2 linked regions of the Homo sapiens genome follow. The protein of the gene in region 1 interacts with the protein of each later gene in a pairwise test. Each region holds a gene or a part of one and is shown on either strand. Other genes may lie near its edges. The genes, in order: DISP3 and CA2.

Region 1 (3,817 bases):
CCTGGCTAACACAGTGAAACTCCTTCTCTACTAAAAATACAAAAAATTAGCCAGGCATGGTGGCACGCACCTGTAATCCCAGCTACTCAGGAGGCTGAGGCAGGAGAATCACTTGAACCCAGAGGCAGAGGTTGCAGTGAGCCGAGATCGCGCCTCTGCACTCCAGCCTGGGCAACAGAGCGAGACTCCATCTCAAAAAAAAAAAAAAAGAGAAAAAGAAACTGCTGTCCATTTCCACCTACCTGCTCAGATGGGTCTCTGCCCAGGGCTGGGGAGTGGAGAACATTGGCAAAGAGACGGGCCCGGGAGCTGCTCCCCACCTTGATAGCTCCTCAGGGGTTGCAGTGGCCACCTGGCTGTCCCTCTGGCATACCAGGCCCCTTTCCATCTCAGGCCCTTTGCATTTACTGCTCTCTGTGCCTAGAATGCTTTTCCCAGCTCCTCAAGTGTGAGACAACTTCTCAAGATTCAAGTCCCTGTCCAAAAGTCACCTCTTGGGAGAGGCTGTCCCTCTCCAAGTGCCACATCCAGCCTCTCTCCATACGTCACCCACTGCTCTCCTGGCCCCATTGCCACCTGCCACCATGCTGACCTGCAGTGTTACCTGTCTTCCCACAGGAGCACACAGGCATCCTGTGGTAGCACCTTGGCCGTCTCATTTGGTGCCGCCTCCCCAGCACCTGTCACGGGTGTCTGGCGTAGTAGGTACAAATAAGTACTTGCTGAATGAATGAATGAGTACACTCCACACTTCCTTGACAAGGCACTCACCCACACTCTAAATATATCATTAATTCAGAAAATGTTTATTTAATGCCCCTGCCCCTTCTGCTGGAAGGAGAGCGAGGGGAGGGCCCCTGTTGTATTCACTTGCCACAGGCCCAGTCCCTGCTAGCACCCAGTGTGAAGTCGGGTCCCTACTACATGCCGAGTCAGAGGCTGCATTCTGTGCTCTCGGGATCTCCACGCCATCCAGGGGCACCTTTTCTGGGGTTTCATTCCCCATGTTGTAAACACAGCCCTGCATCCATTTATCTGTGGAGGCCATATTAGCCAAAGGTCTCCTCTCTCTGCCGTTCACTGATTTAACAAACTGTGGGCTTCAACTGTGCTGGCACTGTGCTAGGGATATGGTAGTGACAAAGACAGATGTGACTCCTGCCCTCGAGCTGTCTAGTGGGAGACAGGCCACTAACAAGTAAACAGCGATATCATTACAAACTATGATACGTGCTCTGAAAGAAATAGCCCCACTGTCATTGTGGAGAACAGTGGTACAAGGCCATGCTCGGTGACACACAGGGACTGTGGTCTCTGACAGAACTCGGTGATACGCGGGGACTGTGGTCTCTGACGGGGCTCGGTGACACACAGGCACTGTGGTCTCTGACAGAACTTGGTGATGCACGGGGACTGTGGTCTCCGATGGGGCTCAGTGACACATGGAGACTGGTCTCTGACGGGGCTAGCTTTGGAGTGTCAAACACCCACAGGAGCCTGAACTCTGCATGGGGCTGAGGGCTGCAGCTTGGAGGCCAGGGAATGGCAGGACAGCCACCCACTGGGTCCCTTCCAGCCTGGGACCCTGACTCGGGGGTGGGGGCCCCTCTGCCTGTCCTCCCCTGAGCCCCAGGCTGGGCTCACTCTGCACAGACACATCAGTGGGCCAGGGGTCAGGCAGGCTGCCTGGATGAGCTGGAAACATTCTAGAAAGAACTTTGAGCTGCACTGGGTCTAGTGGTTAGCCAGCTGTTGACACTGGAGCCCTTCCTTCCTATAGAATCTAGAGACTCCCTAACTGTTGGGGTTGAGGCAAGGCTGGGGGCTTCTGAGCGAGGACCACTAGGGTTGGCCCTGGGGGTCCCTCCTGAACCCTCGTACCCCCGGGGGACAGTTTGAAAGCTGCTGGTCTTCTCCACCCTTCATGACTCCTATGGGGAGACTGAGACCCAGAGGGGCAGGGCCTTTACTAGGTTCCCATAGTCAGCCTTGGCAGGGGCAGGGCTAGAACAGCCTCCAGACCCCCAGCCCAGGGCACATCCCCCAGCCCTCAACCTGAGAACAAATCCCCATGCCGGGGCAGAGCCCGAGTCCAGACCCCATGACACCCCAGCCCCAGTCCCAACCCTGGCCTGCTGGCCTCACCTCCCCTGACTCCTCCTAGCCTTTCCGGCCTCAGCCCAGCCTCCATTCCCTCCACAGGAAGCTGTACTTCGCCCAGTCCCACAAGCCCCCCTTCCACGGGCGCGTATGCATGGCACCCCCTGGCTGCCTGCTTAGCTCCAGCCCCGATGGGCCTACCAAAGGCTTCTTCTTCGTGCCTAGTGAGAAAGGTACGGCAAGGGCACACAGGTGGGGACCTCAAGAGCTGAGACCTCGGGGCTCAGGAGCTGGACCCTGCCTTCCCTTACAGCTGTGACTCCCTGTTCGCAGTGCCCAAGGCCCGTCTCTCAGCCACCTTCGGCTTCAACCCCTGCGTGAACACGGGCTGCGGGAAGCCGGCGGTGCGGCCACTAGTGGATACCGGGGCCATGGTCTTTGTGGTCTTCGGCATTATTGGCGTCAACCGCACTCGGCAGGTGGACAACCACGTCATTGGAGACCCGGTACGGGGCATGCGTCGGGCAGATGCCGAGGGCCCCAGCTGCAACAGTCTTGCAAATAAGCACCTGTCCAGGGAACCATGTCCAGCTCCTCACACCCCCTCTTGGCTCCTCAATGGCTCCTCTAACCCAGACAGAACCCCTATGGGCCCCTGGGGGTCCGGTTTTTCTTGAGGACTCAATGGCGTTGACCTCTTAGATTCACCCAGGAATCTGGGTTTAGGGCCCAAGCTGGATGCCTGTGAGGGACTGGAATGGAGAGAGGGCAATCCAGGTGGACACCTCCGTGCCCTCCTCCTTGCCCTCCCCCTTCCTCTGAGCTCGGCCGTGGCTTTCTCTCTGAGGCCTCCCTCCCTCACATGCACTCCTGTCCAATGTGGGGCTCTTCAGTTTTTGAAAGCACTGCTTGAGCCGGGACTGTTCTGGGCACGTAGTGGGTGCTAAGGATTCCTAGGAGGAAGGACAGGTGGGTGTCCTTTGCCTTTATTAGTCACAGCCCAGCGGGGTACACGGGAATGGCAGCCATGGAGTAAGTCGGGGGCAAGGTGGAGTCGGAGGAGATCTGTGTGTTCAGTCCACACTGGGTGTCTGCAGGCGCTCGGAGCAGGGGTGGGGGGACCAGGCAGGTTCTGCAGGACAGTGAGGATGTGGCTGTCTGGGAGGGTGGGGAGAAAAGCAAGAAGTCCAGGTGAGAAGGTGGTGAGGGAAGGGGAGGAGGTGAAACAGAGGGTCCTGTGTGGGGTGGGCAGTGATGGGAGCAGATGTTGCTGGCGGGGGCAGGGCAGAGGGTTAGGGTGGAGCAGTGGGTGAGCAGTTGCAGGCTGCCAACATGAGGGTGACAGGTAGCAGGAAGCTGCTGGAGGTTCTGCCCCAGGGTTGGGGGTGAGCACCCAGGACTGAGTCCCCGTCTCACTGAGCGGCCCGGGCCGGCTTGTTTCTCCTTGGGAAAGGGTAGTGTTGTCTACGACAGCAGCTTTGACCTCTTCAAGGAAATTGGGCACCTGTGTCACCTCTGCAAGGCCATCGCAGCCAACTCCGAGCTGGTGAAGCCGGGTGGGGCCCAGTGCCTGCCTTCAGGTGCGTGGGGTGTGGGGAGCTGGTTCCTCCGAGGGAGGATGGACTGACTGGGGAGGCACAGAGGCCGTGGTCCAAGGTAGACAGCCCGAAGGACAGTGTCTGGCATGTGGGGGTCTTTTGCAGATGTGTATCTGTGC
Region 2 (3,817 bases), on another chromosome or scaffold:
AAATTAAACAATTTTTTTCTTGTAAAGAATACTGTATATTTATAACAAGACAAGGCCAAAGGTCTCAAGGTATTACACATACAGAAAGAATACTATAACATTTCACGTCTAGTCATTTACAAACCAAAAGAAGTGAGCTACTTTAGTCTGTAGCTGTACTTTTTTAAAGAGCCACAATGATGTCATTGTTTTCAATGGATGTAATGTCTGCCAAATTATGTATCTCATTGGATGCTACATAGAAATTGGATAGTTTAAGTCTTTTTTGGAGCACTGAAGAAACAAATCTCCAACAAATGAAAGCAGATGAGGTTCCTAATAGTCCTTAAAAAATGGATAGTGAAATAAATTATTCTAGTAATATGTATTACTGGAAAGTGGATTTGAACACATGGTCTGGTGGCTATCAGCATAGACTGGGGTCAGAGAGACCTGGATTTGAGTTCTAGAGCTGCCGGCAACTAGCTCAGAGACTTTGGGAGTAATACTGTCTAGGTTTTAATTGTTTTTAACTGTAAAGTTGGAGTAACAATAGTGTCTGCCACAGTGGAAGGATGAAATGGGACAGTATATGTAAAGCCCCTAGCCCAGTGCCTGGCGCATAGAAGTTGCTCAATAAATGGCCTCTGTTGTTGTCACAACTTGAACCCTTCGACCACCTCTGTTAGACCATTGCTGTAGATGTTGCACCTGCGATAAGATTTCTGAATAAACTTTTTCTTTAACAGCTTTAAGATTAGTTCCCATCATTTGATGTATTTTAAATTTTTATTTTTATATTTTCTGAAGCATACTGTTTATCATACTGAATATGTACTTATTTTATGTATGAAGTTATTATATAGTTACATATTTTACCATGAATCTGTTAAACTTTGACAGATTTCTCTATAAGCAGTAACTAATTAGATCTAGCTACATTTTTCACAGCTATTTCTTCTGGAGAGCAATGCATACATTTTTAAAGAAGTTGGCCATGTTTAGATTGTGAAACAGATGAAAACCACAGGGTTTCGGTAGGAGCTCCCACCCATGCCTTTAGAGACACATGTATTATCCACCTAGTTCTACAAAAAAGTCATTATTAACACCACTTAAATGCATGGGAAGCTAAGCATCATGAAAGCAGGGTGGAGGCCTGGTCCCTCTCCTGTTCCCCGGAGCCCATGCTGGAAATATCTAAAGTAGAAAGACATAGAAATAGTAGACCCTGACTGCCACTTTGATAAGTGCAGAAAGGAAGTACTCCAAGGAACTATGGAAACGTGAAGGAGGCTTGGCAGTTTAACTGATAAGACAGGAAAGACTTTCCAGGGTAAATAAGGCTTATGTGGAGGCTTGAAGGATTTTGATGTCTTGGACGAGAGTCCAGGCAAAGGGAGATAGGAAATACCAGGAGACTTAAGAGAGCACAGCATGTGCTCCAGAAAGGCAAGAAGGTATACTAAAAGCAAGGTCAGAAAGGACTTGCCCTCCTTTGCATATGAAAGATTCCTTTGTAATTTTGCCTCTCTTTTCCACATTTTCAGTTACTTTGGTTAAACAAGAATGCAGAATATATTAAAATGTCAATATTAAGAGAAAAGACATCTACAGAATAAATTTTTAAAAATCATACCATGTGGGGGACAGGCACGGTGGCTCACGCCTGTAGTCCCAGCACTTTGGAAGACTGAGGTGGGCGGATCACTTGAGGTCAGAAGTTCAAGACCAGCCTGGCCAACAGGGTGAAACACTGTCTGTACTAAAAATGCAAAAAATGAGCTAGGTGTTGTGGCATGTGCCTGTAATCCCAGCTACTCAGGAGACTGAGGCAGGAGAATCGCTGGATCCCGGGAGGCGGAGGTCGCAGTGAGCCGAGACCGCACCACTGCACTCCAGCCTGGTGACAGAACGAGACTCCATCTCAAAACAAACAAACAAACAAAAAACCACACACACACACACACAAAACCATGTGGAAAAACTCCCTTTAGACTTTCTTTCTTTTTTTTTTTTTTAAATAAAACAATCCTAGGCTCTCAAAGCCAAAACAAAGAATAGAGATACTCTAGTTAAACTCACCTTAATAAACATGAAGAAACAGAAGCTGAAGAGTTTAAATAACTTGCTAAGTCGTCTCCTTGCTAGTTTGCTGGAGGGACTAAGTAGCAATCACTTAAAAATAGAATTTTGAATAAAAATATTTGAAGGATAACCTTATTTGACATTTAGTTTATACATACCATGTTTTTTAAAAGCTGGCATTTTTTTCTGTACACAAGTCAAAAAGTTATTTATTTTAGTCACTTAATTTTAAAAAATCGGCAGTTTAACATCTCTTTTTATTAGGAGTTATTTTTGTGGTGGTAACATTTTTAGATTTCCTATACCTCTTATTTCCTGCATTTAAATGCAGTTCATTTACCTGTCTTCTTTGCCTCAATGAGATTTCAGCCTTCTAGAACTTCTCATAGATTGAGGTTTTCCAATATGCTTTAAATGTTCTCTTATATCCAAACTTAAGAACTTGGGTATCAGGAACTGAGCGGGTTGACTTTATTGCTGATTTAAGCTTGAGAGAATTTTTTAAACTACGGAGTTAATAGGATTTAACTAGAAACTTGGGTTAGAGCTCTCATCAATCTTCTAAATTCCTTTGAAAATAAGCCACCATAAATTCACCTTAAGTTAATGAAAAATTGCTAATCCCTTTAGGTTCTTAAAAAACTTATTAAAAAATAACTCACCCTGCTTGAGATGTTTTATTAATGGCCTTATCTGGGAGAAAATAATAGTAGTCAAATTATTAACTCCTGCTAACTTATTAACTTTTATTAATGAGTTTAATACTCTCCTGCTTTATTGCAAAGTTAGGGACAAATATTGAAAGTCAATGCCAGAATTATTGGGCCAACTCTTATCCAAGTCTTACATCATTTCTGTTTTTCAGAAATTGGAATTTTTTAAATCTGTTTGTTATTTCAAGAAAAGAGTAAAGGAAGCTGGATGAGTTTACCTGTGCTCTTTTTAAGTGACCCATTGTCTGTATGACGTAATGGATCTTCATACATGGATCCTGCTTGACTTTCAGGGACTTGCTTTTGAAGCTCTAAAAGTTTTCTTTCACAGCAGTCCTAAGTTAAAAGAAAGCATAACAACAAATGAAAGGGCTTGTCATGCACGCAGTAATGGTGTCAGCCGAACCTTAAATATCTAGAAAATGGACCAACATATTCTAAACACTGTAGTTACTATATTCACATCAAAACAGCTTCTTTTTTTACTCCTATATAATTGCCACATAGTTTAAACCACGACTTCTGTTGAATTTCAACTGTGTTTACTCTAGCGAAAGTGACAGCTAAACATCTTATTGCTTTAAAACAAATGGAATACGTGTATTTTTTCCCCCCAGATTTGTCTATATTGGCACGTAGCCCTAGGATTATTGGCTGCTGCCAACAGGCAAAACAGTAATGCATGATTTAAAATTTTTCAGGTTATTTATAGAAAAGATGGTACCGAAAATGACATGTTTTCTGTAGAATTAATCTTTTGCTTTATTAGTAGGAAATCATTTAAATTTTATTTTTAAACTAAAGATTACTGGGACTAGTTTATTTATATTTTGGACTTAGGAGAAACTGTTGACATTCATTACGGTCTTTAGTCTGTTACTCCAGTGCATCTTAATTTAGTTTAAGTGATTAGGGAGAAAAAATTAAAAAATATTAAATGTTCAGCTTTTAATTTGTATAAGTAATGTGATTCATTTCAATATTACTGGATTTCTTATTTTTCTCAAAAAGTAATTTATATAATTTCCTCAAATAAT

Evidence for each region.
Region 2: the proteins of DISP3 (region 1) and CA2 interact in a two-hybrid assay, tested with the Homo sapiens proteins (one large-scale study listed by IntAct).

The regions. Positions count from the first base shown.
Region 1 is NC_000001.11:11,527,354-11,531,170, forward strand, and holds part of DISP3 (protein dispatched homolog 3), read left to right. Parts: intron 1-618; coding exon of another isoform or gene 619-715; exon of another isoform or gene 716-2,202; coding exon 2,203-2,333; intron 2,334-2,413; coding exon of another isoform or gene 2,414-2,433; coding exon 2,434-2,606; intron 2,607-3,553; coding exon 3,554-3,680; intron 3,681-3,817. UniProt on the Homo sapiens protein: Plays a role in neuronal proliferation and differentiation. Plays a role in the accumulation of cellular cholesterol. Involved in intracellular lipid droplet formation. May contribute to cholesterol homeostasis in neuronal cells.
Region 2 is NC_000008.11:85,466,851-85,470,667, forward strand, and holds part of CA2 (carbonic anhydrase 2), read left to right. Parts: intron 1-3,817. UniProt on the Homo sapiens protein: Catalyzes the reversible hydration of carbon dioxide. Can also hydrate cyanamide to urea. Stimulates the chloride-bicarbonate exchange activity of SLC26A6. Essential for bone resorption and osteoclast differentiation.